Linked DNA regions of Homo sapiens. The protein of the gene in region 5 interacts with the protein of the main gene of each other region in a pairwise test. Each region holds a gene or a part of one and is shown on either strand. Other genes may lie near its edges. The genes, in order: TRIM48, MAP4K4, TUFT1, PAX4, NME7, CCDC136 and CCDC33.

Region 1 (5,043 bases), on a different chromosome or scaffold from region 5:
GAGAGTTGCTTAAAGGGACTCAGAGTTGGCTTTACCCAATCTCCAAGAAAATAGGGCCACAGGAATTTCATGTGTCCTTTATAGAAATAGATCTTCAGAGGCATCACTTACCCAGTGTTCCTCAGCAGCCCACTCAGCGGGACAGTGTCTGTGATACCGGTGCTCCTGAGAGCTGGAGCACAGCAAACAGAGCAGGCTCCTGTCCACTTCACAGAACATCTTCTTTGTCTCCCTGTGAATGCCACACATTTGCTCCTCAGAGCTCAGGAATAGCCAGAGACTGGCTTTTCTGGCAAGGGAAGCCATCTTCTTCAATCGAATGTTAGTTTTGAGGTTTCTCTGCTGTATTGTCTTTATGCATTCAAAGCACTGAGTAAGAATTGGGATGTCTTGCCAGTTGAGGTAGAAACAGGGCCTGCAAAAGCTGTGCCCACAGTCTATGGTGACCGGGTCTATGAAGTAGTTCATGCAGATGGGGCAGGTGAGTTCCCTCTGGAAGACTTGCGAGATTCCAGAATTCATGTTTCTGAGGAAGAAAGAGCAGCATGTCATTTTGGGGTCTGGGTTGATGAAAAGCTTCTGAACATGTGGAGATAAGTGATAGCTATAGTTTCTTCTCTTGACAGTGTTCATTAAAGCACAACAAACTATTTCTTCTGTAACAAAAATAAAAATCTCACACAGAGAGTCTCCCGGCTTTATAATAGATATTACTGACTAGATGCCTCACAACCCCTTCTACTCCTAGTGCCTGTCTGTAACATAATACTAATCTATTCAATTTCCCATTTTTTTCTGAATGTGGATCTGGAAATTGGGTTTGATTCTAAGTAGCCTAGAATAAATTGTAGTTGTTCCTATTCTTCTTTCATATGACTGCCGAATGAGTGTGAAAGAGTGGGAAAAACTGTCTTGGCCAAAGAAATACGAGAAGATGGCTAGAGGGTCCTATGATATATTTTGAGAGAGAGACACAACAGTGGGGCAGCAAACCACCATGGCACATGTTTACCTGTGTAACAAGCCTGCATGTCCTGCACGTTTATCTCAGGACTGAAAATAATATAAAATTAAAGTAAAATAAAAAACCAAATCCAAAGCGAAATAGAAAAACCAATCAACCAACCAAATAAACAAATAAAAAACAGCAATTAAACCAATTTAGGTTGAATAGAAGAGAAAAAATCATTAAAGATATCGGACCTTTTTATTTTCTCTTGGATTGAATTAACTTCTCCTAGGGATACCCAAACTCTGAACTAACATATAGTAGGATTTTTGTTAAACTTAAAGAGGTGTAATTATATTTCCATGGTGTGATGGTGAATTTTAGGTATCAGTCTGACTGGATTAACCAACACCCAGGGAAATGGTGCAGCATTGTTTCTGGGTGGGTCTGTGAAGGTGTTTCCGGAGGAGAGAGACATGTGAGTTGGTGAGCTGAGTGGGACCATCATCCCTCAGTTTGAGTGGGTACCATTCAATCAGCTTGTAGCTCAGATAAAAGGAAAAGGCCAGAGGAAAGGCAATTTCCTCTTTCTTTCTCCTGAAGCTGGTTCTGAGGCTTTCAGCCTTGAGATCAGTCAAGATACCAGTATCCTCACTACATCAGCTTAAAGACAGCCTATATTTGGAACTGCTCAGACTCCATAATCAAGCAAACGAATTTTCCTGATGAATTCCCCTCGTGTAGAATCATGTGTAGCTTGAGGACAGATATATGTTCTAAGAAATGTGTAAGGAGGCTTTATTTATTTACTTTCTGAGGTGGGGACTCACTGTGTCACCCAGGCTGGAGTGCAGTGGTGCAATCTCGGCTCACTGCAACCTCCACCTCCTGGGTCAAAGCGAGTCTCCTGCCTTAGCCTCCTGAGTTCCTGGGATTATAGGAACATGCCACTACACCCGGCAAATTTTTTCATTTTTTTTTTTTCCAGTAGAGATGAGGTTTCGCCATGTTGGCCAGGCTGGACTTGAACTCCCGGCCTCAAGTGATCTGCCTGCCACGGCCTCCAAAAGTGCTGGGATTACAGGCATGAGTCACTGCGCCTAGGTTTTATTGTTTTATTGTTTTGACATGATAGAATCTACCTTTACAAACCTAGATGGTATAGCCTGCTACAAACCTATGGTATACAGTACAGCCTATTGCTCCTAGACTACAAAACTGTACAGCGTGTTCTATACTGTATACTCTAGGCAATTGTAACACAGTGGTAATTATTTAGTATGTAAACATTTAAATACAGAAAAGGTGCAGTAAACATACTGGTATTATAATCTTATGTGACCACCATGTGTGGTTTGTTGTTGACTGAAATGGCTCATGAATGTATCTCTACATGTATACATATACACCCTATGATTCTGTCTGTCTGGAGAGCCCTGACTAATATATAAACTATGGTCTTTGGCAATTTTAAGTCCTTTTCGTTACTCTCCTTTATTTGATAACGCTGCTGAATTTTAGTGAAAGCAATGAAAAATCTTAGAATTGTAAATATTCTCCAGAGGTCATCTAAGTCATTGTAAGGAATTTTTCATAGTTTAATAAGATTAAAACTCAAGTGAGATGGCAACCACCATCACATATCAAATTATATCATATATTTATTTGGTCAAAAAATTGTGTTTTGATTTCCAAACTGGGATGTTTTGGGGAGCTTTCTCATTTTTTTCAGTTTCACTATTTTTCATCTCTCATCATTACCTTACTAATTTAAAGTTATGTGTAAATGCTGAATGAATGAATGAACATTCATTAATGTCTTCTCAATTCAATTGTATAATATTAATACACTCATTACACATATATTTACACACACCTATGTGTACATACATGTATAAATATCAACTCCATATATTCATTATGCATACATATCTGTTGCAGCAAACACTAGATATTTTCATTTTTTCAAAACTATATTGAAGAATGATAGAAAATGCAAAATAACAACAATTAATATCCTCATAATTCATAAAATCTATAGTAAGAATATGAATTACAGATGGTATCATTGTGTAGATTTAAGATAATGAGATATTTTTAACACTCTAATTTATTATTTTGTAAAGGAAAGAAGATATAATTTTATCAATATAAGTTTCACTCACCGCTGGGTTCTTTGAAGGGTTCCCACAATGATTCTTCGAGACATAATTCTGTTAAGTACTCCTCAAGGTCAGGAGCTCATTCGCTGCAGTACTGAGTTTCAGAGGTCACCAAAACACAGCTCCCTCTAAGTGCACTCCTTCTCCTTTGGAGAAAACTGAGCTTGTCTCTTCTATGTCCTTTATAAGAATCTGTGAAGACCACACCCACCTCTTTAAGTGGGTGGAGTATTGAGAAAGGTTGAGAATAAGATGATTAGGTTTATGCAGTATTTAGATCACACCTTTGCACGGCTGATTAAATTATCATCACTCCTTAAAAAACCATGACTGAAATGAATCATATGTAACATAAATCCTATCAGATTTGACATACACTGCAAATTAAATAAGATGCATTTTATACTGTTTATTGAGCTTCATCCAAGATACAGGCATTCCTTTAAGGGCACATTTATTTATTCTAGAGAAACTGTCTCCTTGTGGAGTGCAGTGGTATAATCATAGCTCACTGCAGCCTTGAATTCCAAGGCTCAAGGGATCCTCCTTCTTCAGCCTCCCAAGTAGCTAGGACTACAGGCTCAAATCATCCCACCTGGCTAATTTTTTTAAAAACTTTTCATAGAGTCAGGGTATGGCTCTGTAGCCCAGGCTGTTCTCCAACTCCTGTCTTCAAGTGATCCTCTGGTCTTGGACTTCCAAAGTGCTTGGGAGTACAGGCATAAACCACCTCGTCCAGCCTTAAATGCTGCTTTAGTACATTTATAGGATATTGGAAGAGAAGTCCAACAGGAAGGTAAAACTTTTTTTTTTGTTTTCTACCACTCTAAGAGAAATCACTGACTAACCAAATAACTCTACTAATTTGAGGTCTCTTATTGAATTTACAAAACTTTGCCAATCTCGTGGGTGAAATACGAGTTATTATTTTAATGCTTTTCTCCACATGGTGCATGATGTTCTGCCATGACTAGAAATGCAATATAGTAATTAATTTGGGGATTATAAACAAGTTTTAGGACGTAGGCTAATTCACAAATACAGAATCCAAACGATAGGGATGGATTATATTTTTCTTTCTATAACAAATATTTTTGTTGTCATGTGACAATTTAAAAAAGAAAAGAGATTTCAGAAGCGGCTACTCAAATATATTCTGACAGAGGAATTCTTTGCCAATAGCCCCCACAAGACTTATATTCAAGAGTTTCAGAACAGTGAAGACAAATCTGTCAGCCCTATGTCTGTCGAGGTTCAAAAAGTCTGTCAAGGTTCAAAAATCGAAGCAGAACCCATAATATATATGTATACTTAGGGAGATTCACATATGAATTAAGTGCAAGGAACTGGTTTCCACAGTTGATGGGATGCCTGAGCAAGTATGAGATCCCTGTTAAAGTCAGTTAGGAAGAAAAATCCTCAGCTGGCTGGATCCCAGTGATCATGATTCAAAGCTTTGGTCCCAAGTCAGTAGGGGGCAATTGGAAGATTACAGTCCCATTCGCTATTTTAAATGTTGTTCAAGGAATGCCTATGTCTTTCTTTAAGGGACTTTCACTGATGAAGTCAGGCTTACCTGAATACACTTGCTAGTTACAAGAGCAGGACCTTTCATTACCTCTGCAAAATACCTTCCCAGTAGGTCCTACGTGAGTGTTTCATTGAATAATAATAAGAAAGTTTGTCTATGCCACACAGTCCAGTTTCATTCTCCTACATGTGGCTTGCCAATGATCCCAGCACCATTTGTTGAATAGGGTGTCCTCTCCCTACTTTATGTTTTTGTTTGCTTTGTCAAAGATCAGTTGGTTGTAAGTATTTGGGTTCATTTCTGGGTTCTCTATTCTGTTCCACTGGTCTATGTGCCTATTTTTATACCAGTACCATGCTGTTTTGGTGATGAATAAAGGCCTGGAGTACGGGGATGTAATG
Region 2 (3,500 bases), on a different chromosome or scaffold from region 5:
AGAGTAATCAGCCAACAACCCACCCCCCAAACAAGAAAAAAAAAAAAAATCAGTTCTGTTTGAAAGAGATTCCTGTACAGGATAATAAGTTTGTCCAGATAAGGCCAAGCCTGCTGAACCGAATCTTCCTATATTTTATTTATTGGATAAAAAGAATGAAAAAGGCAGATTCCACAAATGACTATAAGAATTTCATGCCAAATACATAATACCGGTCTGAGGACAGAGCAATCATTTTATTTAGATTTTTAAAAAATAAACTAGATAAAGCCATGCAACTATACTTATCTACAGAACAGTAAACAGTGAACTGGCAAGTTTGGGGGAGCTGATCTAGGGTTAAGGGGTTTATATGCAGATCTGAAACATGTTACTTGGGGTTGGGGAGAAGGGTAGGTGACAGAGAAAGCAGGGTGGGAAGGGAAGGGGTGAGGGTGTTGGAAAGGTCTCCTTTGCAAACTAACTCCTAGGCAGTGCTGGTCTAACCCCAGGAAAGCAGCCAGCTGTGGTGCGAGACATACCTCATTAGCAGTGAGCTTGTCCTGGGGTGTCTGTGGGGACATGGTGGGTGTCGGCTGGCTGGAGGATGGGGAGGAGGAGGTGGAGGAAGTGGAGGAGGAATGGCTTTGCTGTAAGAGATCTGGCAAGAGGTGAATGCGACCGGCAAAGCCATTGCTCTCATGATGGCTGGCACGCTTTTGGTCAACTGTACTCTGTAGAAAAAACAGGCACACTTGTCTCGCTCAAGCGCTGCTAAAATTGCCTATGGCCCTATTGATAACTGCTTTAAGGTGCTGTGTGACTTATAAACTCTGCTAAATTACCAAGGAAAAACCAAAGAAATTAGCCTGAACTGCTCACACTTCCTCACCAAATGCCTAACTTGTGCCAACAGAATTCAAAGTACCTAATCTGGTGGCTGCACGGCTCGAGCAGTGAGTGTTTAATCTGGTTTATCTGTTGCGCTAGCTTCTGTTACCAAAACCAGTATCCTTTTTTTTTTCTTTTTAAATCTTTCTTTGCAAAGCTCCAGAAAGTACCTGTGGATTCTCTGAATCCTGGTCTTTTCCACATTCTTCCTACTTTCCATCCGAATGCATTGCCATAGCATGAAACACACTTAGGGCAAAGTCCAAAATACTAAATAGGTGCCCTGTTCTATTTAAATGAGAAGCGTATCACTTTAATTAAGTCTAAGCTAAGAAATGAACAGACAGTTATAAAGCTTAGTGATCCAAACTGAGCATATCTGGGTGGCACACATTTAATTATTCAACAAGTGAGAAAACTAACATTTTGGAACATAGAAGAGAAACCTCCCGAACCCTTCTGCTCTCCGAGTCTCTGGGCCTGTGATGAGGCTCGTCCTGCCTGCCTCACCCGCTCCCACTGTGGCACTGCAGACACTCAGAGCCCAGCGTGCTCTGCAGAGCCATGGTGGCTGCTCTGCCAGACTCCAGACCTGCTTCCTCACTCTGTGAGCCTGTTTAAGGACTCCCTGTGGCTTCTCTCCCGCTCAGACATAGACTGTGAGACTCAGCGCGGTGCTTGAATGAGGGCTGCCGCAGACATGCAGAGGAGCAGCGATGTGGGGTGGAGACTACTCGCTACCTTCTGGGCATGCAGTACACACCTGCCTCCCTAGCCCCCGACACTCGACACTTGACCCTCTGGGACTTGTTAACATGAAAACAGATGATGATGGAGAAACAGCATGAGTGAGTGAATGAGCAAGTGGGTTAATGACCACAGGAGAAGCTCAGCCTCTGACAACAGAGAAGACACGGGTACCTGGCGGACGATTAGAGTGCCCTCCTTGGATGGGGTCATGGCCGGCTCACTTTCTACATCATCATGGACAATCATGGTTTTCACAGATTCCGTTTCACCATTGCTCAAATTCAGAGATGACCTATGGAGAAAAAATCCAGACGTGAAAGGCCTTAATCTCTGGAGTCAAGGAGATCCTGTTTAGGCTTTTCGCCTTCTCAAAATCAAAACATGAGATGAGGCTACCGATATAAAGCCTCCTCCAAAAAAGCAACTGCTTAGCTTTCTCCCTTTAACAAAGAATTTCTTTCCAGTGCCATTTGTTTCTGAGCAAAAACTTAGAATGAATAATTATGGCTAATTAAAGTAGTTATACCAAACTGAAATTTCCCCTGGATCATATATCCTCAAATCAAAAGGAAAAAATAAAGTACACGCTGGGGTGCTGGGGGAAGCACTGACATATGCACACACCAACGAAGAGAAGGGGAAACACAAGGCGACCTGCTGCTGAATCCACGAGAACTACATAGTAAGTGCTCATGGGGTCACGGAATAGTCTAGGAACAACTAGGTCCCAGTGGAAAGCAGGCTCTGAGAGAATACTCTCATCCGCTCTAAAAGAGACCGGGGACTGACGCTGCTCTGGTGTCCTCTGGTCCTGAGGTGGACTCGTCAGCCCCTTCCTGCTCCACATCGTCGTCCTCCTCATCCGTCGTCCCCGACTCCTCACTGGATGAGGAGTAGTCCGTTACTTTGTGAGGTGGCCGTACATCTTCCACTGCTCGAAGCTCTTTGGCCAGTGCGGTCAGATCCTAAAGCAAAGGACAGAAAAGAGAGAGTAAGGCAAGCAGGAGCAGGGACAGGAGAAGATGAGAAGTTCTTTAACCATAAATTGCCACAATGTCAGTTTTGTAAGACTTTTATAGTTACCCAGTTTCATGAGAAAGTGAGCTCCTATGGCTTTTGATAGAAAAGACCAAATAAAGTCAAGAGAGAGATTAAAAAAAAAAAATAGAAGACACCAAAAAAAAGTCAAAGATGTCATATACAGTTCAAATCCCATGACAATAAAAAAAAGATCTGCTTATGTTAAGCTGATAGTATTACTGTTGTTTTTTAATATGAGGTAAAATTCTAGATCAACAAATGTATATACACAGACTCTTGGACTTTGTTGTAAGGAGATCTCCCTACATGACAAAGTCTTCTTTAGACTCATAAAAAAGGTTTTGAGAGACACATTTTTATTTTACTTCAACTTTTATTATTAAAAACTTCAAAGCGCTAAGGTTTAATATTTAATGTTTTTATTTACTAGTTATAGGATATTTATGAAATTTTAGTAATAAATATTAATATTTTACTAAAATCAACATTTTAGGTTTAATATTTTATTAATAAAAGTTGTAGAAACATAACTTCCCTCCCAAAACTCTTTAAATCAGGCTTATTTAACTAGAGGCTTGCTTTCTGGACTGACCCCTTTAAAGAAGACTTTGTCATATAGACATGTGTCTTTACACCAAAGCTCAAGGATCTGTGTATATACATTTGTTGATCTAGAATTTTACCTCATACTGAAAAAAAAAAAACTTCAAACCTACATTAAAATGAAAGGAGTGAAGTGAGCACTAGGATGCCACTGACATCTCACTTCACCGACTGTTCACAACCTGCCACATTCATGGACAAGTCTGTGACACATGAAGAGACACTGCGACCCTGAG
Region 3 (4,413 bases), about 18 Mb from region 5:
TTACGTGGGAGGCTGAGGTAGGAGAATTGCTTGAACCTGGGAGGCAGAGGTTGCAGTGAGCCGAGATTGCGTCACTGTACTCCAGCCTGGGTGACAGAAACAGAATTAGTCTCAAAAACCAAACAAAATGCTGAGATTACAGATGTGAGCTATGATGCCCGGTTCTGTTTTTCATTTATCTGTTTTCTTTTTCCTGCCTTCCTGTGGATTAACTGAACACTTTTTAGGATTCCATTTTTATTCATTTATAATGTTTTTGAGTGTTATCTCTTTGTATAGACTTTTTAGTGGTTACTCTAGGTATTATACATTATGTATACATAGGTTATCACAGTCTCCTGGTGTTGGCATTTTACTAGTTTGAGTGAAGAAGAGAAACCTTTCCTTCCTTTACATCCCTTTACCTTCTCCCATTTATGATACTAAATATTTAATAGTATAATATTATCATATTTAAATATTTTCTCTGCATACATTTAGAACCACATCAGACATTGTTATACTTTTTGCTTTAATCATCAAATGTAACTTAGAAAACCTAAGAGGGGCTTTCCAGCCCCAGCCCCGGCCCCTACAGCCACCGAGATGTTGATGCCTAAGAACCGGATTGCCATTTATGAACTCCTTTTTAAGGAGGGAGTCATGGTGGCCAAGAAGGATGTCCACATGCCTAAGCACCGGGAGCTGGCAGACAAGGATGTGCCCAATCTTCATGTCATGAAGGCCATGCAGCCTCTCAAGTCCCGAGGCTACGTGAAGGAACAGTTTGCCTGGAGACATTTCCACTGGTACGTTACCAATGAGGGCATCCAGTATCTCCGTGATTACCTTCATCTGCCCCGGAGATTGTGCCTGCCACTCTATGCTGCAGCCGTCCAGAGACTGGAAGTCCTCAGCCTAAAGGTCTGAAGGGTGAGCGACCTGCAAGACTCACAAGAGGGAAAGCGGACAGAGATAACCTACAGACGGAGTGCTGTGCCGCCTGGTGCCGACAGCAAAGCTGAGGCTGGGGCTGGGTCAGCAACCGAATTCCAGTTTAGAGGTGGATTTGGTTGAGGATGTGGTCAGCCACCTCAGTAAAATTGGAGAGGATTATTTTGCATTGAATAAACTTACAGCAAAAAAACTTAAAAAAAAAAAAAGAAAACCTAAGAGGGGAAGGAAATCTTGTTGTATTTACCCATCTTTTTTCAACTCATGTTTCTTTCTTCCCATTATTTCAAGTTTCCTTTTTTTAAAAAATAATTTCCTTTCTGTTTAGAGAACTTTTTAAGCCATTCTTTTAGTGTAGGTCTGCTGGTGAGAAATTCTCTTAGTTTTCCTTCATCTGAGAATGTCTTGATTTCCCCCTCATTTCTGAAGGATATTTTCCTTTGTTACAGGATATTTTCCTTTGTCAATTCTGAATTGACCGTTCTTCTCTTTCAGCATTTGAAAAATAGTATGCCACTTCCTTCTACTCTCTGTCATTTCCGAAGAGAAAATAACCTTTGAGGGATCCCCTCAAAGGTTATTTTCTCTGCTTTCAAGACTTTTTCTTTGTCTTTAGTTATCAGAAATTTAATTATGATCTATCATGGCATGAATTTCATGTTTATTCTGTTTGAAGTTTGCTTGGCTTCTTGAATCTATAGATTTGTGTCTTTTGCCAAATTTTGAAAATTTTTGGTCATTATTTCTTTGAGAACATTTTCAACTGACCCTCTTTCTCCTCTCTACCTGGAATTCTGATGGCTGGATGGAATCATCTCTCAGTGCCCCAACCCAGCCTAGTTGTCTATGCTCTTCCAATTGGAATGCGTAGGTTTATGAAACAGACCAGACTTGACCTTCATTAGCTAATAACCCCTTTGTTCTGACTGAAGGATGCCCTGCCTTTTCCCAGCCTGCCTCCATAGAACACTATGGGGAGATAGTGTCCTTTTTTTTTTTTTTTCTTTTTGAGACGGAGTCTTGCTCTGTTGCCCAGGCGGGAGTGCAGTGGTATGATCTTGGCTCCCTGGAACCTCCACCTCCTAGGTTCAAGCGATTCTCCTGCCTCAGCCTCCCTAGTAGCTGGGATTACAGGTGCCTGCCACCACAGCCAGCTGAGTTTTATATTTTCAGTAGAGACGGGGTTTCACCATGTTGGCCAGGCTGGTCTCAAACTCCTGACCTCAGGTGATCCACCCACCTTGGCCTCCTAAAGTGCTGGGTTTACAGGCATGAGCCACTGCCCCTGGTCGAGATACTGTTTTAATAAAAGTGCAGGTATGTCCTGGGAAGGAAGAATTTGGCAGCCATTCTGGCTATTTTGAAATCATTTCCTCTTTTTTCTTTTGTAATATTTTCTTGACCTAGATGTCATGGAGCATTCTCTGTGCATTCAGAAAATACCTTTGCTAAGGGCTGTGGCATACAACAGCTCTTGAGGAGTTAACAGAAGGGGTAATTCTTCACAAAACACAAATAACTGAGAGGCAGATGCCATGGGAGGCCTTGTGACGCTGTGGGAGCTCAAGGAGGGGAAGATGTGTTTCCCACAGGATGCGGGGTAGCATCTTGGAAGATGAGGCATTTGAACATGAACTTGAGGAACTTGGAGACGCCTTAGGTGAAAATGGGAAGAATAGATATTTAAGGCACAGGAAATGATGGGAGCAAAGGCACTGAAGTTGGAAACCATGGAATGTATTGGATAGGGCACTGAGAGATGGTAGCAAGAGGTGTGAGTTTACCCAGACTGTGGAAAGCCTTGCATGCCACTCTAAGGATGTGGCTTTTATTTCATAGGAATTAAGTGTTTTCATAAAACCAGCTACTTTGCTAGGGTTGGGAAGGTTTAAGGGCCATTGTGACAGTGTCTTCTGTCTTCCCAATCCAAAAAGTGGGAGGATGCTGATGTTTCAGTGCCACCCTCCTGTGTGGCAGAGAGTAACCTCCATACATTTTCTCATTTTCTTTTTCTTTTTGAGACAGCATCTCACTCTGTCGTCCAGGCTGGAGTGCAGTGGCGCGATCTCAGCTCACTTTAACCTCCGCCTCCCTGGTTCAAGCGATTCTCCTGCCTCAGTCTCCTGAGCAGCTGGGATTACAGGCGCCCACCACCACGCCTGGCTAATTTTTTTGTATTTTTGGTAGAGATGGGGTTTCACCATGTTGGCCAGGCTGGTCTCGAACTCCTGACCTCAGGTGATCCTCCCACCTCGGCCTCCCAAAGTGCTGGGATTACAGGCATGAGCCAGCACACCGGCAATATTTTTAAGTAATATTCAACAAAAAAACCCTCAGTTGGGGGCCGGGTGCGGTGGCTCACGCCTGTAATCCCAGCGCTTTGGGAGGCTGAGGCGGGAGGATCACAAAGTCAGGAGTTCGAGACCAGCCTGGCCAATGTGGCGAAACCCCGTCTCTACTAAAAATACAAAAATTAGCCAGGTGTGGTGGCAGATGCCTGTAATCCCAGCTACTTGGGAGGCTGAGGCAGGAGAATTGCTTGAGCCCAGGAGACGGAGGCTGCAGTGAGCCAAGATCGTGTCACTGCACTCCAGCCTGGGAGACAAGAGCAAGACTCCATCTCAAACAAACAAAAAACCCTCAGTTGGATGGTAATATACCCCTTTTACAGATAAAAACATCAAGAGTTAAGTATCTCACCAAAGACTGATTTCTTCTCCACCAAGTTGGAACGTTATCTTCTCTAGACATTTGGAAGGTTAAGAGGGTTCCTTAAAACCTGTTACCAGTAAGATGTCATTTATGCAGCTGGGCCTCAAGGCAGGGGATGACCAGATGACCTCAAGATCACTTTCATTCTTGGATAGCCCAGCACCTATTTCTCTTCATTGTCTGGGAGAGGCATATACTCCATCCTCACGCTGTCACAGAATGGAATCCAGAAGGAGCCTGAGATATACTTGGTCCAACTTCCTTATTTTTCCAGTGGGAACCAGAGATCCATAGTGGCTAAGCCCCTCATTCACTTCCATGCATAGTGCAGGTGATTTACTCTGCCTTGTTAGCCTTCTCTCAACGTTATCATCTTCCCAATCTACAGGCCCTTACTTTTCCCTCCTACCACGTTTTTCCTTTCAGGTTTTTAATTTTCCCTGCAAAGTATTGTGTGTGTGTGTGTGTGTGTGTGTGTGTGTGTGTGTGTGTGTGTGTGAGTGTTTGAGACGGAGTCTTGCTCTGTCACCCAGGCTGGAGTGCAGTGGCACAATCTTGGCTCACTACAAGCTCCGCCTCCCGGGTTCACGCCATTCTGCTGCCTCAGCCTCCCGAGTAGCTGGGACTACAGGCGCCTGCCACCACGCCAGGCTGATTTTGTTTTTGTATTTTTTAGTAGAGACGGGGTTTCACTGTGTTAGCCAGGATGGTCTCGATCTCCTGACCTCGTGATCCACCTGCCTTGGCCTCCCAAAGTGCTGGGATTAC
Region 4 (5,105 bases), on a different chromosome or scaffold from region 5:
AGCAGGTGTCAAGAGCCCAAGACGAGGTGTCAGACCAACGCCAGCGGGTCTCTGCGCTGGCCGCGCCCAGTCCTCTCCAGCTTTACGCACGGGCTTGGCTCGCCCTCTGGTCCCTTGAGGAAGGCAGGGGAACTCCAGCCGCCTTTCCTGAGGACAAGACTTCCCTACAGACACGGGCCTTTCTACCAGGGACTCCTAAGGGCAGAAGAAGCCGGAGATCAGGGCTCTACATCAGGGCGAGGGACAGGCTGGAATGGCCATGGCTGGCCCCGGAGAGGGGCGCACAGCTTGTTGGCGGGTGGCAAGACCTTTGAGTTAATGTATAATTGTGAGCAGATGGCGGGGGCTGGCGGCAGCCCGGGGCCTGGGCCCAGCTAATGAGGGACAATTAGCCCCAAACCCGGTGGGGGTGGCTGAGAGAGTCAGACAGTGAAGGCAGATATTTGCTCCTCAAACAGTCTAGCGCGCTGGGCAGAGGGCTGAGTGGCAGAGCCTTTGGGCTCTCTAGGCCCCCCTGCCAGGGCCCTTTACCACTTTTCCCTCCCCCATCACCTCTGGGTCGAAAGCCTCTGTTTGTTCAGACCCAAGAGCGCGTCATAAAGGCGGAGGGAGAGGGTAGTTTATGGGGTAAATCGCTGCCACCACCATCTGCTAGGGCTTGTCCCTGCTCCCCCTGATACCCCTATCTCCACCCTCATGCAGCTGTCTATAGGAATAGCTGGTCAGGACATAAGCCTTGAGCCCCTAGACGCAGGGGCAGATCTAGCGGGGAGGGATGAGGCAGGAATGGGGGACTAGGAGCAGGGCTACCACAGGCCTTACTGGGGACCTCCTCCCACCCAAGCATGGCTAAGTAGAGTGACCAGCAGTCCCCAGCTGCCCCGGGGATGGAATGGGCTGTAAGGACACTTGGGCAAATGCTATCCTGCCCGAGGTCCTGAAATCACCCTCTGCAGTCTCCCCTGTACCCCAAGACCAGTCTGAGGATGCTGGAGGAGGGTGGAAGAGGAAGAGAGTATGTATCAGGGTAAAGTGGAAAACTCACTTATGTGATATTTGGCCTTTGAGAGCAAGAGTTCCCAACCCTAGGATCAAGCTGAATGCACAACAACCACTTTCACCCCCAAAACCTCAAAACATTTACCAATGACATACGTCTTCCATTCTCTGATTTCTGGGACTAGTCTTATTGCCCTACACCCTGCTTACTTCCAGTCTAACTTTTGCAATGGTTTCACAGACTCTGAGGTGTGGAATGGACCCAAAGACCATCTGCCCAAGACCCTGATGACTGGCAACAAAATTTACATGCACTAGAGGCTGTGTTTCACTTTCAGCATCCCACTCCACAGGCACCACCTGCCCAGCTACTGATACCTCTGACCTCGCCAATGACCCAGATAACCTGTGGTGTCTTTTGTGGAAACAGCAGTGCCATTACTAACTTAGAGTCTAAAAGCATCAAATCCCTAACAGAATGGAGCCTGCTAACATCTAAAGATGGAAGAAGGAAAATCCTGCTGCAAGCCTCCTTATAAACACCCACATGCATCTCTGACTATCCTGAGGCTCATTTCCACCACCACTACCATTGTCAGTGTTCTGAAGTCCAGGATCCTTCCATTTCCAGGCAAGAATTCACCCTTGGTGTCACCTCAGTCAAGGAGTCAATTGGAGAATTGGTTAGGACACTCTCTGGGGACAGCTGGTGCTAGGTGACACACACTCTTCACACTCTTCTCCATTCACTCTCATTATCTCAGAGTGCTAGGAGCCAACTCAGTCAGTATTTAGGCAACAGTCTGTATACTCATTTATCTTTTATAGCAACACACACGACTCAGGAGTTGACCCCAAAGCCCATGTATGTGCATTCTGGCTGGGAAGCTGTGTTGGTGGTTCGGGAAGGCATCTTTTTGCTTCTGTGTATTCAAAGCCTTAAGAACACAACCTGAAGTTCCCCATCTTCCATGCTCAGCATGCCCTTCAGGAGTACTGGTGCTTGTGTGGGTACACTTTTGCCTGTCTGAGAATGGCTCTGTCCCTGCTTCCGGGTGGTAGGTGGACACAAAGTGGGCTCTGAGGATTCCCCATGGAAGGACACAGTGGGTCATTGGCTGTGGTTTGCCCTGCCTCAGGGCTGGTGTCAGTCAGCCCATGCACACCTCCCTCCTCCTCTCTCCTCTGCTCATGGCCTGTGACATCACTGGCTACTCCCAGAAGGCTGCCCTCTGCTCTTGAGCACGGGCTCTCTATAGCTCTGGACCCCCTGGCAGGACTGAAGCAGGAGCAGAGTGGAGGCTGTTACCAAGACCAGATCATCACCACCCCTGGAGCCTGCAGGGGTCTCAGAAGCTGAGACCTCCCACTGAAGCTCCCACCTCATTTCCTCCACACAGGTAGCTCACCTGCAGGCTCATTGTCTGCCCTGCCTCTCATGCTGTCTCCATGCCTCTGTGTGGCCAAACCCAACTTCTCTCCCACTCTGCCTTTGCAGCTACAACCCTCCTGCCCCTTCCACCCCCTTTCCTGTTTTTCCATCTTGCAAGCACCAGTTATTTTTTCAGACATGTTAATATGAATGTTGGGAATGTGTGTTGTGGCTATTGGGAATGGGGTTTCTGTTTGTGAGTTGGGGCATAATGATTTAGGTTTGGAGATTATTTAGGTTTGGATACTGAACCTGCATCCCTACTGCTCTTTTGAATTCTGGTCACTTAGGAGAACTGAGTCCCATCAAGGATTTAGGGTTTGGCTGATATTTTGAGCTCCTTCACCCTGTCTTGGCACAGCCCTTTACAGTCCCTGCTTGATTCTCCTCTCTCCATTGTTTTTGTGGCAATTACACAAACATGAAACAGGGGTGGGAGCAGAGAAAGAGAGCCCAGGATTAGGAGCCAGAAATTGTAGCTTCTGATGAGGAACTGGCTTCTAAACCTTGAATTTTACTCTCTGGACAGCCCCTGACTTGTGGCAATGCCAATCTGTGCCTCAGTTTTCTCTTTGGAAAACCTCTGCCTTCTTTCCCGACTTTTTGGAAAGATGAGAATTTGAAGGGGTCTGTGCCTCTACCTACCTAGAAACAAGTGAGTAAAAGCCAATTTAGCGACTGAACTTAATAAGTAGACTCTGGATTCCAAACTCTTTGTAATTCTTTGTTTCACTGGTGCTAGTCTCTTTTCTCCAGTTGCTCTGTAATGTGTTGGAGAGCAAAGACTTTACCCTTTTCTGTTTACTGCCTTCATCCTGAACAACCAGCAATGTGCTCATGCTTAATATCTTATTCAGCATACAACTGCAGATGAATTAACTAAGCCCAGATGGCACGCTTATTATAAGAAAGTTCTGTGCATAAGCTGTTCCTTGGGGTGATCTCCAGCACTACCAGGGTTCCAGGCATGAAAGGAGGCATCTTCAACTCCCATTGATTACTAATGAAAGTAGAAGAGGTATGGTGGCCTGTGGGACCTGTGTCCCTTGCTGCTCAGAGACTCGCTTGGGCTCATGACGGTTTCTATGTTGCTCAGCGGACAGTCTTCTCCTGCTTCTCATTCCCTTCAATATGCCTTTGATAAATGTTAGTTGAATGAATGAGTGTCTGATACCAGAAACATCGTCTCTGAAATTGAAGCTTCACTGTGAGATCTAGAACTCTTCAGAGAATGAACAGAATGAACAATCTCAGCAGGTTAGAGATGCTAAGAGATGCGTCTCCTAGGAGAAGCCGGCTCTTCAGGCGTGTTCATCTCTATGCCCAGTGTGTAGGACCAGAGCCTCAATGCCTGGTGGGTTAGAGCTGAGTCCCAGTTTCCCTAGAGCTTCCTGGAGAGTATAAAAAAACAGGAGCAAGCCTTTCTGAAGTGCAGCATTTGGGTGGCAGTTTGGAGAGCCCAACCGAGGACTGCCTAATAGTGAAGGTGGACCCCTGAACTTGAGGACCCCAGAATCTCTGGCTCGGGTGTGTCTTCCAGGGCTGAGAAGGCTTAGGAGCAGCTGGAGACAACAGCTGTCCATTTGGAAAGGGGAAAGCTTGAGCATTTGAAAGCATTATCCCTTTCTACCTCCCCAAACTTTTCTAATGAATGTGTAGGAAAGGAGAACCCTCTCAATCCTCCCAGCCCCTTATCAGGACTTCAAGAAAGATCCAGTCCTCAGCCAACCTGCAGTGTTTTAGTTTTTATCACACAAAGGTTTAAATAAAAGGAATTAGAATTTTCTGATTTTAGCCAACCCACTGGCAAATTTTAGGAACCTGACCCTCTATCACAAAACACTACCTCCCAGGACCATTTCAAGCAAAAGACCTCACCCAAATAACCCCCCATTATTGCAGAGCCAGCCCCCAAGCTGGAAAAGGAGCTCCTAGAAGGAACTTCCCTTCCCAGCCTTCCCAGCTGGAGTCTCATCCTTCTGAGGAGGGTCAGCCTGGAGCATGCATCAGGACGGTGAGGAGCCTGGGGGAAGTGGGAAGACAGGGAGGACAACAGAGACAGGGGAAGACCTCAGGGCTTTGCTTCCATCAACTGTTTCATCTGCTATTGGCCAATGTTCTGGGGAAGCTTTTTCCAGTCCCTCCCTTCCTGCCCTGTCCTGCTTCCCTTAGATCAGGAGAGTTGGCGGGTATGGGCAAGGAACAAAGACTCACCCGTGAGCCAGCTCTCAAAGAAAGCAGCTTGCGTTGACAGCCTGGGGGCAGCAAGGATGCAGTCTCCCAGGAGAGGATGCACTCGGTGGTGGGAAGCCAGGCTGGAGGGGCCTGAGTGACCCTCTCCACAGGCGGGCAGGGCAGTGGGAGAGGTGGTGTGTGGATACCTCTGTCTCACGCCCAGGGATCAGCAGCATGAACCAGCTTGGGGGGCTCTTTGTGAATGGCCGGCCCCTGCCTCTGGATACCCGGCAGCAGATTGTGCGGCTAGCAGTCAGTGGAATGCGGCCCTGTGACATCTCACGGATCCTTAAGGTAATGGGCCAGCACCTTTACCCAGTGATGGGGACAGGAAGCAGGGAGAAAGGGCTCCTCTGAAGGCAAGAGCCTGGGGCTGTTGCAGGCTCTGAGGGCTTCTGGGACTTGGGTCACTTCCTGGGAGATCCTCTCGGAGGTTGAA
Region 5 (4,413 bases):
TCTTGTTTAGTAGGAAACAGTGGTATTTGGAGAACGGAATAGTAAGTGGTTAATATAATGCCATAATTTTTTTCATGTAGCTTTTTATTTATTTTTGCTTTCCTTTTTCTGCCTTTTTATTCCCAATTCTTTCTCATTCACCAGTTATTCTTCTATTCGAGAAAGTATTTATTGAGTACTTTCCATATACTGGTAACTGGTGGGTATACATTGATTAATAAGATAGCACACAGTGGCCCCTAACTCATGGAATTTATGGAGAAAAACAGATATTGGAAAATAAATTACAAGTATAAGTTGGATTACAAAAGAAAAATGACAAGGTGAGGTGGAAGTTAGTAATAAAATAGAGTGATCTGAACTAGCCTGGGGTGGTGAGGGAAAGTCTCTTTGATGATAAAACTCTTTAATTGTTTTTTTCCTTAGTTTGAGAGAAAAACAGTTTACATGAATAAATAAACGAATGATGACCTCATATGATGATAAGTACTATGAGGAAAATTAAACTAAGTAATGCAATATTGGTTGGTTCCAAGAGCAAGTAGCCTTGAGTAGGACAATCAGGGACGGTCCTCATGAGGATGTGACTTTTAAGCTGAGATGTCAATGATAGAAAGCAGCTTGCCAGGTGAAACCTAGGAGAAGAGCATTCCAGGCAGAGTCAATAGTGAGCACAGAGGTGCATTAGAGGAACAGGAGGGAGATAGTGTGGCTGGGGCCTAGGGAATGAGAGGACAGCTGGAGGAGAAGAGATCTGAGAGGCAGGAAGGAGCCAGGAATACTGAGACTTATGGAACTTGGGAGGGATTTTGGATTTTATTCTAAATGCAGTAGTATTATACATCTTATATATTTTACCTATTCCATCAAAATATTTTATTTTCCTTGGATTTGCCTTAAACTTTTGCCATATTAATTTGGTCTCTTGGTGCTTATTTTTATCTTATCTGTAAAATTTATGATCTTATAAGCTTTGGGAAATATTTTTCTGAGCTTCTTTTGTCTTTGAACTTCAGAGACTCCTAATTTCATCCCTTATAGTTGCCATTTCATAATTTATTTTCCCATTTCTGGACTTATTTTTTGTTTCTATAATATCTACTCTAAGGTGTGGCGAGCAGAGCTACATATTCCAGATGGGTATGCATTATAGTTTCAACATGGGAGTTATGTTTGCTGCTGTGATCTTCACCTAGTACCTTTCTTGATGCTGCTATAGCATATGATTGAAGTATCTTACTTTCCAGAAGTATCTCCAGCATTCCCAATGAACTTTGTATTCACATTTTTTTCAAAAACTGCCTAAACTTCTTCACTTCCAAAGTTGTCAATATTTAAAACTTTCTGTTAATTAGATGTGAGAAACTGTAGCTATTAAAATGTACTGCTTAATTCACATTTATTTTCTGATACTGGACACTTTGCCTTAATAAGTTGCTGTTGTTCTCTCTCCTGACTCATCTTATGTGCTGTGCCTTCTTCATATTTCTATACTCTTTAAAATGTATCTTCATATGCACACATAATGGCTCTAGAGCTCTCTGATAGATGTAAATTCAACTTTTATCCTTTGTTTTCCATAGTTTCAATATTTACATGATACATATATATGCTATATATGTTTTATATATGTTTATAAAGATATTTAACTTATTCTGTTGTAGAAATATAGGAAAATTACTTAGTCATTTTTAGAAATGAGAAAATATAAAAGTAAAAGTAATAAAATTACATTTATCTATAATAACACTGCCTGTATACAATCGCTATTAATATTTTTGTGTAATATCCTGGTCACATATATACTCATACATATATACACACACACACAGAGATACATATCCTTTAAAATATGATTCTATTATATTCATTGTTTAGAAATCTGTTTTATCCCACTTAATATATCTTTTGCATTTTTCCAGATCAGTTTTAAGAACTACAGCCAGCCCTGGGTAGCCATGGGTTCTGCATCCAGATTCAACCAATTGAGGATTGAAAATATTTGAAAAAAAAAAATAACAATACAATGATAAAAAATACAAATAAAAACAAAGCACTATAACAAGTATTTACATAGCATTTGCATTGTATTACGTGTTGTAAGTAATTTAGAGATGAATTAAAATATACTGGAGGATATGCATAGGTTATATGCAAATGCTATATCATTGTATGTAAGGGACTTGAGCGTCTAAGGATTCTGGTATCTGTAGGAGTCCTGGAACCAATCCCCTGCAAATACTGAGGGACAGCTCTACGTTTTATTCTTTCATTTACTCTGATTTAACCAATCCATTTATTAATTTGTTCTGTTAACACAATACTAACATATTTTTGCGAACACATTTTTATAGACATCCATAATTATTTCCTTACAATAAATTAAAAAGGAAATAACTAGGTGCGAGAGGTCATGTGCATTTTTAGGCTTTCAATATACATTGCCAGACTACTCCCAAAATAGTTTTGCCAGTGAATACTCTGCTAGCAGTATACCATGGTGCCTGTTTCTTCTAAACTCTAAACTGGTATTTCTATACATTACATACATATGTCTAACAATAGATTTGAACTTTTAATAAAACTGTCACCTGCTTTGCTCAGAATATTGAGAGAAATATAAATTACTGTATGTTCTATAGATGAAAGGCACTGTTAATACTTACCTACAATATTTCTTTGTAATTATTGTTTTACATCTATTATAAATTGTTAAAATTCAAGGTTTATTGTCTGACTGTAGTGAAGAATATTAAGTTGGCCTTTTTTTAACTATTATTTGTAGACAGATTTTCCAGTCCTCTCTTGTGTACTTATTTTCAAGATGTAGCTTGTTGAAGTACAAACAAACTGATGTAGAGCTAGAAATCTAAAATTTCAGTCTTTATTCCAGTCCTGGCTTAAGCACTTATGAGCTGTGTGTTATGTAATCTTTTTGGATAGTTATTTTCTCATCCATAAAATCAAAATAATACTTTCTGTTTAGATTACCTTAAAGCATTTTTTGTGAAGATCAAATAAGTTAATATGAAAGTAATTTATAAACTGTAATATACATATGAAATGTGTTATTTTCATATTAACCAGATTGCTGCCTAATGAGAAGATAGTTGAGGAAAATGGAAGAGATTAAAATATCAACCTTCAAAAATAAATATTTGAGGTTAATGGTGTTATGCAATTTTGTGGCTATTGAAAAATTTACTTTTATATATTAAATTCCCTCTTCCTAAATTTCTCTTATAGATTCATTTTCCTAATGGAAATAAGAAAAAGCTGGTAAAAGGGAGGGAAATGGCAGAGATTGGTCTTGAGACCAGTTTCAATAATGGTCATATACTTTTGTGGATAGGGGCAGCTAAACATGTGTGATATGTATTTAGCAGGTATTAGGTGTGAGATCCCTGAATATCTACTCAATTTAAATGGATTAGCTGGGAACATTTACTTTTATTGCTGGTCATGTGAGATTTTATTATTCAGTAATTTGACTGTGAAAGTACAATGAGACCGTTCAGACCCAGTCTGTTTCTTGCCACTTAGACTCAGAAATTCGGCTCTGGAAAAACTGAAAATCCCTTCATCTAGTGGCAAGTACAGTTTTATCATTTATGTTAAACCATATTGCCTTTTAGGTACCTTATTGGATTTTACTGCATGCACTGAGATCTCTAAAAGGTGAATATCTGTCTATCTTAGATATCTGAATATTTTTCATAATTAAAAATGTTCAAGTTTTTATGCAAAGAATGAATGGCTTCTATAATATTATGATCACTTTTTCTAGCATTTCCACATAAAAATTAGTATTGGCCTGATGATTTTATCTTGTCTCCCAATACCCTTAACACCTAGGTTGTGGCATGCATTATTAGAACACTTCTAGAATCAAACTTGACATAATAAGCATTTATATTCAGATATAGAGCAGAGGCTCTTGAACTCATCTTTCTGCCCACTTTTGGGTTCTTGCAACATGCTATATATATGAGATACAAAGATGAACAAGACTAGATTTCTTTTTTAAAAAGCTCACAGTCTTGGAGGAAGAAAAAAGAGAAGAAGAGAAATACATGATACACTGTAACATTGTAATACTAACTTAGAGAAATTCAATTTCTTCATTTGTAAAATGAGGATAATAATAATAATAATAATACTAGTTCCCTTATAGGGATATTATTATAATTAAATGATAAACTGTTTAGCCCAATGCTTTATACACTGTAAGCATCCAAAAAATGTTTGCTGTTATTACTGTTACTACTGCTGTTGTTATTTCCAAGTGTTAAGATAGAGACCTACTGAATGTGGGAACACAGAAGAGAGGCTAATGACTGAAAGAACGCTAATTAAAAACAAGATTAGTTGACTTTACTGCTTTTTCTCTGCAATTTTTCATTCACTGAGCTT
Region 6 (4,245 bases), on a different chromosome or scaffold from region 5:
AGCCAGGACCTGAGGGAGCACAGTGTGGTAGAAAGCGTGGCTGCCAGGCGGTCAGAAGAACTTGGTTGAGTCTGTCTCTACTGACAGGCGTTGTCCCAGGGAGCAAAATGCACACTCTGAGCTCTAGTTTCTTCAAATGTAAGCAAAGGATGATCGAACCTCTGCCCTCCTCACAGGTTTTTGTCAGGACCAGATGGGTTGAAGTAGATGAAAGTATTCTATAAATTATAAAATACCCCATCATTAATAAAAAGAGCACGCACTTACAAAATGCAGTCTTATGTGTCAGGCACTGTTCTAATCACTTACGTATATTAACTGATTTAATCCTTGCAACAACCCCATGAAGAAGCTACTCCTATTTTTTTTTATATATGATTAAACTAAGGCATAGAGAAGTTAAGTAAAACAGCCAGGAAGCTGCGAGTCAGATTATAAGGACTCAATATTAGCAACAAATAAGATTCCAGTCTTGCTTCCCTTTATTGTCTCTCCTCATTTTGAGCAGTTTCTCTTCATTGGTCCCAAGTAGGAAGACACCATACTTGTGTTTAGGCAACCTCAGATCACATTAGCTCTTTAGGTAACTAATATATTATTTATTTATTTCATGTATTTTTTATAAGCCCCTCTGCAGATTGTGTATGCTAAGCGTCCTCTCCCCATTCTGTACCTGCATTTGATTTTGAGGCTTCAAAGGCAGAATTTTCCATTCTTCCCTATTATAGTTCATTGTTCTTACCTTATAAGGTTTTGTGTGTATGTGTTTTTAATCTTGACCCTGTGGTTTTAAAATATTCACTTCCTCTGCCACCTTCACATCATCTACAGGGGTGGCAAGCCCTCCTTCCCTGTCTTCATCTACAGAGGACAGAGTGAGGACAGAGCCTCTAGAGTGTCGTCTCTTGGGGTTCTTTTATTCAGCTCATTGGTCACTTACCTGCCATTCAACAAACTGTACTGTCATCCTACCCTTATTTCTGCATATTATCTGCAAAGATCATAGAAAATTCTGTCAAACAACTCAACGTCCAAAAACATGATTCCGGTGATTTGTCACTTAGGTCACCTAGTTTAAAAGGAGAGTTTGACACGACTTCCCCTTTGGGACACCCACACCAGCCCTTTCCCCATCCCATGTAGAAGCTTGCCTTTGCCCAGTGTGAGGTGCACGGGTCACATTTAAGGATTTCAGCTCCTCCCTCCTTTAAGAACACCAGACTAACATTCTTAGCAATGCACATTAGGATAGAGGCATCTGAGCATATAAATATTTTTTTCTAGCTAGCTCCCTTCTTAGTTTTTGTTTTTGGTTTTAGAGACAGGGTCTCGCTCTGTCACCGAGGCTAGAGTGCAGCGGCATGATCATGGCTCACTGTAACTTTGAACTCCCGGTCTCAAGCGATCCTCCTCCCTCAGCCTCCGGATCTCTTGGTTTTCTTACATGAGTTACTCTGTATATCCACCTGTAACATTGCTTGGCTTTCCATTTCATACCTTCTGTTGTTCTTAGTAGCTATTTCTATAAGCTCAGGAGATTTTCTTTGCTCTTTAGCAGGCTTAAAGTCCTCTTTTTAGATCAATTATCATCTGAGAAAATGTGTTCTTAGCATTAATGGGCTATATTCCATTTTTACTTGAAACCATCCTTCTGTTACCTATGCCATAGCTTATGACTCAAAATCCAAATTCTACCTTTCAGTTAGTAGAGTAAAAAAGTAATAAAAATAAAACCTATTTCCCCAAGTATGTATTTTCTTGTCTAAGATTTTCATATTACCTAATGGATGCTTTTTGGATATCTTCGATGGTGCCACTTGTCCCATGAATCAGCAGGGTTCCCTAGTGGCCGGCAGTGTCTGGAAGCCTCAGCATACTCTAGCACATGCACCAGGAAGTCAGTCAACATACCTGGTGATTAGGAGTGTTCTAATGACCTAGGCCCAGTGACAGGTTTCCTTAAATTTCCTTGAACCAATGTCATTCTCTGTCAAAGTTTGTCTGCCTAAGAACCTCCTACTTACCTGCACTCCGTGGTGCACTTTCTTCATTTCCCCTCAGCCTTATTCCCCCTTCCCCATCCTCTTGACTCTGAGTTCACTTCACTGCAGTGAAACTAATGAGGTGCTGCTGCTTTTCTCAAAGCCCCAGATTTCCCCTCCTCTTTCTTGCCATGGCATCCAGTCCTTTCTCATTGCAACCACTTGGAAGTCTGGCCCCTGAGCCTGCTTCTTCACATGGGAGCTAGTATTCTCAGCCCATGGGGAGAAACGGAGGCCTGAATACAGGCGGTCACCTAAGGTGGTGCGTACAGTGTTGGGCCACATGTCTAGTGGTGCCAGGACTGAGAGATCACTTACCTCCACCGGTTACCCAGGAGGTAACAGAGACTGATCCACAATGTTCCTGAGGTGTCTTGGGCACCCATAGGCAGGTGACTTCTGGCTTAGGGCAGGGTTCAGGAGGCTGGGCACTCACAGTTTCTCTTTGGTCCCCACAGAACATGTTTGGGTTGTGGAAGCCTATGGTATTCTTGGCTATTGCAGCTGTGGCTCTGTATGTGTTACCCAACATGCGACAGCAGGAGTCAGAGTTCTGCCTCATGGAGTGATGGCAGACCTTGGCCAGCGCGAGGGCAGATCCCCAGTGGCCACCACCCTCAGCTTTGGGCAGGACACACTGTGCCAGAACCCTCCCCATATGTTCCATGTGTCCCCATCTCCTCAGCCTCAGTCACCCAGGCTGAAAAGGCTTGTGGGGAGCGGCTGACTTCCATCTCCTGCCTTGTGTAAGAACCTGAGTTCCTTGTAATTAAATATCAACTGAATTACATGAGACTGTGGATTTTTATTTGCTAAATGCCTCACAACACAACCAGAACAGAGCAGTCCCCCTTTAACCAAGTACCTCACATAAGGGTCTGACTCCTAAATGCGGCTTCTCACCTTGCAGATGGCCTCAGAAATGAGGCTAGCCCCTTGTGCTGTCGACTGACTCACAGAGGGGTTAGTCTGTGCTTATTAACCCCATCCTGAGGTGCTCTCCTGAGCATGGAGAAATGGAGTGACTGAGGGCTGGGGAGACCTCCCCTAAGGTTCTGTGCCCACACCTATCTACATGAGAAGGCCGCCCTAAGAAGATCCACGTGTGTGCCTTCGTGACTTAGCCTTTGTGACTTCTCAAGGGATTCGCCCTCAGAGATGACTTTAATCAGCCAGGGTCCTGGCAGTAAACAGGTGGCACACTCAAAGCTTTACATGAAGAGAGTTTAATGAAGAGACTATGTACCAAAGGCAGAGTTAGGAGAAGCAACAAAAAATAGTGAAGTACCAGGCACTAGCAACAGTGTAAAGCTGTTAGCATCCCAGGCTGAAGCAGGAAGGAAAGGAAGCAAGAGCTGGAGCTCTGAAAATGGGCCCCAGGCAGGAGTGGCAGCCACATGGGGTGCAGCCCCCGCCAGAGCCGTGAGGAAGTGGGATATATATTCCCCTACCTTCTCCTCCCACCTGCCAGTATTCTACTGGTACCTTATCAGCTGAACTCAATGGGAAGACAAAGCGCAGAGGTGCCCAGGTGATGTAATCTTTCAAGCTCAGCCTCCTGGAGCTTAGAGCAGGACAGAGGCCTGAAGATGGATCTAATTGGGACAAGTAGAATGATGAGGATAGTTTATGTGTGTTCCTGTTTACCTTCATTCCTGTGGAACCTTTGTGATTGGAGTTTATCATCATGAATGTTTCCTTACGAAAGAAGACCCCAAGCGTATTCTTTTTATTTCTTTCTTTTTTTCTTTTTCTTTTTTTTTTTTTGAGACAGGGTCTCACTCTGTCACCCAGGCTGGAGTGCAGTGGCACCATCTTGGCTCACTGCAACCTCCACCTCCTGAGCTCAAGTGCCTCCCACTTCAGCCTCCCAAGTAGCTGGGACCACAGGCATACACCACCATGCCCAGCTAATTTTTATATTTTCTGTAGAGACAGAGTTTCACCATTTTGCCCAGGCTGGTCTCAAATTCCTGGGCTCAAGCAATCCTCCTGCCTCAGCCTGCCCAAAGTGCTGGGATTACAGGCATGAGGCATATTGCCCAGCCCCAAGCATATTCTTAAACCATAGTGGAAACAATGACCCCATGACTCCTGGCTTTCTTTGGACCCCTCTTTCTTCCTCCCTCCCACCCAAAAGGACTTTGTTCCATTCAATCAAACATCCAAAGAAACACATGTACAGAGTGTATACTGTGGTAGC
Region 7 (4,071 bases), on a different chromosome or scaffold from region 5:
ATAACCACCCTTCCAGGGAGCTGCTAAGACTTAGGGCCATGGCTTGGGGCTCCTGGTGCTCACTGGCCTTGTGGGGGACCCACTGACTTTCAAGTGTAGATGTGGATGTGGGACCAGGGTTGCTATGGGGCAGTGGGCTCAGCTCTGGGCTCTGGGATCCACAGGAGATGAACAACTACCGGCGGGCCATGCAGAAGATGGCAGAGGACATCCTGTCTCTGCGGAGACAGGCCAGCATCCTGGAAGGAGAGAACCGCATACTGAGGAGCCGCCTGGCCCAGCAGGAGGAGGAAGAGGGGCAGGGCAAAGCCAGTGAGGCCCAGAACACGGGTGAGGATGTGCAGGCCACCAAGGGCACCCGGGCTTCTGCCTGGGCCCAGGCTCCAGGTTGTGCAATAGGGTGGCTGGGAGCTTCTCCCAGATGTGCATGCTGCTGGACTCTGGCAAATAGGAGCCCCTCGCCCACAGACACTCACACAGTCCCTGCCCAGCTGGGTCCTCTCAGGGATGGGAAACAGAGAATCCAGTCCCGTCCCAAGCCCTCGGGCCAAGGGATATCTGCCTTCCTGCTACTGACCATGCTGATTTGAGCTGGGAGAGGCTTCCTCCCTGAGCCAGCTCCCCAACCCACCTAACAGTGTCCATGAAGCAGAAACTGCTGCTGAGTGAGCTGGATATGAAGAAACTGAGGGACAGGGTGCAGCATTTGCAGAATGAGCTGATTCGAGTGAGCTGGGGCTTGTGGGGGCAGAGGGGAGGGAGCTATGGTGGGGGAGCATCGGGGTGAGAAGAGTCTGGGAGGAGAAGGGAGAACAGGCACAGAGGGAATGGAAGCACGGAAGAAAGGGGGACCAGCCTGGTGGAGGATTCAGCAGAGGGGCCGAGGTGGACCCTCAGGGCCAAGGTGGACTCCCAGGCACCCATTCTCTCCCCTTCTCTCCTCCCCCATCTCACAGAAGAATGATCGAGAGAAGGAGCTGCTCCTTCTGTATCAGGCCCAGCAGCCACAGGCCGCTCTGCTGAAGCAGTACCAGGGCAAGCTGCAGAAGATGAAGGCGCTGGAGGAGACTGTGCGGCACCAAGAGAAGGCAGGTGGCAGAGGGGCTGCCCCCGAGGCCAACTGATGATGGCAGAGTAGGGAGCCCCTGGGCCAGCCCAGCCTCTGCTCTGCTCTCCAGGTGATCGAGAAGATGGAGCGGGTGCTGGAGGACAGGCTGCAGGACAGGAGCAAGCCCCCTCCTCTGAACAGGCAGCAGGGAAAGCCCTACACGGGTGGGTCCACACCCTGATGTGATCAGCTCCCCAGCTTCTGCTCCACCCCTGGAGGCCCTGCCTTCCTGGAGCCTCTCAGCTTCAGGAGAACCTGCGAAGAGGTCCCCTGCACTCAGTTATGTCTGTGGGCCTGGGAGACCCAGGATTGCCCTGCTCCCCTCCTCATTCAGGCGCCCCATCCAGAGATCCCCTGAGCTCCCTCCTTCCCTGGAAGCCCCTCAGAACACAATTGGGATGCAGTGTGAGCCAGGCTAGAAAGAGGGTGGACCTCCAGAGGAGGGCCCTGCAGACTAGCACAGCAGAGAGGGCCTTCCCCTGAAGAAGGGCCACCTGGGGCAACACTTCCCAGCTCCTAGCCCCAGGATCCGTCGAATTATTTCCCCATACCGCCAAAGATTCTGCCTCTGCAAAGCAAACAAACAAAAATACTTTGATTAAATCAATGATCTGGGGCCAGGCGCAATGGTTCATGCCTGTAATCCCAGCACTTTGGGAGGCCGAGGAGGGCAGATCACTTGAGGTCAGGAGTTCAAGACCAGCCTGGCCAACATGGTGAAACCCCATCTCTACTAAAAATACAAAAATTAGCTGGGCATGGTGGCGGGCACCTATAATCCCAGCTACTTGGGAGGCTGAGGCAGGAGAATCACTTGAGCCCAGGAGGCAGAGGTTGCTGTGAGCCAAGATTGTGCCACTGTACTCCGGCCTGGGTGACAGAGGGAGACTCCGCCTCAAAATAAATAAATAAATAAATGATTTGGAGGTTTTCTTCCCCATCGATATTAACCAAAAGCCACCTAAAACTGCCAATCAGCCTCTGATAAGCAGAAAGGACCAGGTAACACCATATCAGGCCAGCCCAAAGCAAGGGATTTCCCTGAGCCTGCCTGTGCAACCTCACCCAGGGCCCCTGTGTGCCCAGCCCTGTGCTTAGCCTTCACCGCTGAGGGTCTCAGGGGCAGGAGGGTGTTTCTAGGAGCCTTTAGAATGCAATGAAAGCTGGGCTGGCCTTTCAGGAAGCCTGAGGTCATCCAGGAGTCTGGATGAGACTGAGAAGGCAACCTAGGGAGGGGAAACAGCCAGATCAAAGGCCCAGGGAGTGAGAAGAATTCCAGGATCAGAGAAGGGAGGAAGAGAGAGAGGTGAGGAGCTGAAATACACTGAAGACAAATGAGGAGTTAGAGAGAACGTTGAGGTCAGGTTCTAAAGAGCCTAGAAGGACAGCCTGTGTGCACCTGATCCCACTGGTGGTAGGGAGCCATTGAAGGCTTGGGAGTAGAGGGGAGGGGTGGCAGATTGAAGCAAAATGCTGGAGCAGATCAGGACAGGGACATGGGAAGCAGGAGAGCCCATCTCACCAACATCTGTGGCCGTGTCTCTAGGCTTCCCTATGCTCTCAGCCTCTGGCCTTCCCTTGGGTTCTATGGGAGAGAACCTGCCGGTTGAACTTTACTCGGTGCTGCTGGCAGAAAACGCGAAGCTGCGGACGGAGCTGGATAAGAACCGCCACCAGCAGGCCCCCATCATTCTGCAGCAACAGGCCCTGCCGGTAAGAGGCCCTTGACCTGGGCCTGCCTATGCCGGTCACTGGGTGCCCAGAAATCACCCATGGTACAACCCAAGTTGAAGATCAAGACCAGGAGCTAAGCTTCCCAGGGTCTCCAGTCTGCCTGGGGGCTCCTGGAATCAGCTCTCAGGCCTTGGTCTTTTTCTCCTGCGGAATGTGTGTCCCCGAACACTTCACCTTTAACCTCATCTAGCATCCCAGGAGAAAGCAAGCCCCTTGTTGACCCTTGGTCCCTGAACCCTGACCCCTTTTTCACCTGGCTGGCCTCCACCTGGACCCTACACAGGCCTCTCAAAACTCCCTTCTGGAGCATTCCCTGGTCTTGGTGCAGCCTTGGAGAGCCCTTTTCCATCCCAGGTGGACCCCGGGGAGTTGGGAGCAGGAGGAGACTTGACAGAGAGGCTACAAGAGACGCATGGCCCAGGCCACTCAGAGTGCACAGAGACCCTGCCCGCACAGGTGGGTGGCCCAGGGCCCAGAAATGCCCAGGCCCTGCTCCACCTCTGAAGATGCTTCAGGGGCCCCTTGCTTTACATAAACCCCAAAGCAGAACATTTGGAATCACAGAATATTGGGCAGGGCAGGGGCACAGGAGAGTTTTCTCTCCATCCCAGGACTCGCCGGAGGTGAGTTCTGTTGAAAGCACACCTGACTCATGGACATCCAGGTAAAGTGTGAGGGATGAGGTCAACTGCCTCACAGGTTCTTCACTTCACTCAAAGACTCCCAGTGCGTTAATTATAGGGGGCTCCCTAATGCATTTTACATTAAAAAAAATGTTGTGTCAAAACTTCGTATTCTCAAAATCTGTGTGGGAAACAGCTGTGAAAAAAGCACATGCCAGACCCTGTTCTGAACTTCCAGAAGAGGGTTCGGCCCAGGTCTGACGCTCTGCCTCGGGAGCTCAGTCTGAACTCAGGCCTGACTGGTTTCTTCCTCAATACCTTATGGTTTCCCAAGCTCACACTGCCACAGCCTCCAGCTGGGGCCAAATGTGAGTTTGTGCTTTGCCCACAGGATCTCCTCTCTGGTACTTCAGACAAGTTCAACCTCCTGGCCAAGCTGGAACACGCTCAGAGCCGGATCCTGTCCCTGGAAAGCCAGGTGGGTGAGATGCAGGAGTTGATGAGGCTGGATCAGGCTCACCACACAGCCTATAACCAGGGCTCAGTGTGTGAGCAGAGTCTAGGCTCAATCTATGACCAGGATCAAGGCTTAGTGTGTGGCCAGGG

What was found.
Region 1: the proteins of NME7 (region 5) and TRIM48 interact in binary tests that used the Homo sapiens proteins (3 or more experiments, as listed by UniProt).
Region 2: the proteins of NME7 (region 5) and MAP4K4 interact in a two-hybrid assay, tested with the Homo sapiens proteins (one large-scale study listed by BioGRID and IntAct).
Region 3: the proteins of NME7 (region 5) and TUFT1 interact in a two-hybrid assay, tested with the Homo sapiens proteins (one large-scale study listed by BioGRID and IntAct).
Region 4: the proteins of NME7 (region 5) and PAX4 interact in a two-hybrid assay, tested with the Homo sapiens proteins (one large-scale study listed by BioGRID).
Region 6: the proteins of NME7 (region 5) and CCDC136 interact in a two-hybrid assay, tested with the Homo sapiens proteins (one large-scale study listed by BioGRID).
Region 7: the proteins of NME7 (region 5) and CCDC33 interact in a two-hybrid assay, tested with the Homo sapiens proteins (one large-scale study listed by BioGRID).

What each region holds. Positions count from the first base shown.
Region 1 is NC_000011.10:55,260,383-55,265,425, reverse strand, and holds the start of TRIM48 (E3 ubiquitin-protein ligase TRIM48), read right to left. Parts: upstream 3,272-5,043; 5' UTR 3,159-3,271; coding exon 3,115-3,158; intron 527-3,114; coding exon 112-526; intron 1-111. UniProt on the Homo sapiens protein: E3 ubiquitin-protein ligase which promotes K48-linked polyubiquitination of protein methyltransferase PRMT1, leading to PRMT1 degradation.
Region 2 is NC_000002.12:101,868,707-101,872,206, reverse strand, and holds part of MAP4K4 (mitogen-activated protein kinase kinase kinase kinase 4), read right to left. Parts: intron 2,586-3,500; coding exon 2,410-2,585; intron 1,913-2,409; coding exon 1,792-1,912; intron 714-1,791; coding exon 522-713; intron 1-521.
Region 3 is NC_000001.11:151,556,861-151,561,273, forward strand, and holds part of TUFT1 (tuftelin), read left to right. Parts: intron 1-548; exon of another isoform or gene 549-1,131; intron 1,132-4,413. UniProt on the Homo sapiens protein: Involved in the structural organization of the epidermis. Involved in the mineralization and structural organization of enamel.
Region 4 is NC_000007.14:127,615,256-127,620,360, reverse strand, and holds the start of PAX4 (paired box protein Pax-4), read left to right. Parts: upstream 1-2,218; 5' UTR 2,219-2,399; intron 2,400-2,960; 5' UTR 2,961-3,086; intron 3,087-4,333; 5' UTR 4,334-4,432; coding exon 4,433-4,445; intron 4,446-4,829; coding exon 4,830-4,960; intron 4,961-5,105.
Region 5 is NC_000001.11:169,356,885-169,361,297, reverse strand, and holds part of NME7 (nucleoside diphosphate kinase homolog 7), read left to right. Parts: intron 1-4,413. UniProt on the Homo sapiens protein: Possesses an intrinsic kinase activity. Displays 3'-5' exonuclease activity with a preference for single-stranded DNA. Does not seem to have nucleoside diphosphate kinase activity.
Region 6 is NC_000007.14:128,819,299-128,823,543, forward strand, and holds the end of CCDC136 (coiled-coil domain-containing protein 136), read left to right. Parts: coding exon of another isoform or gene 1-13; exon of another isoform or gene 14-1,746; intron 1,747-2,500; coding exon of another isoform or gene 2,501-2,792; 3' UTR 2,793-2,832; downstream 2,833-4,245. UniProt on the Homo sapiens protein: May play a role in acrosome formation in spermatogenesis and in fertilization.
Region 7 is NC_000015.10:74,330,025-74,334,095, forward strand, and holds part of CCDC33 (coiled-coil domain-containing protein 33), read left to right. Parts: intron 1-164; coding exon 165-330; intron 331-638; coding exon 639-727; intron 728-956; coding exon 957-1,088; intron 1,089-1,178; coding exon 1,179-1,272; intron 1,273-2,654; coding exon 2,655-2,821; intron 2,822-3,196; coding exon of another isoform or gene 3,197-3,298; intron 3,299-3,856; coding exon 3,857-3,943; intron 3,944-4,071.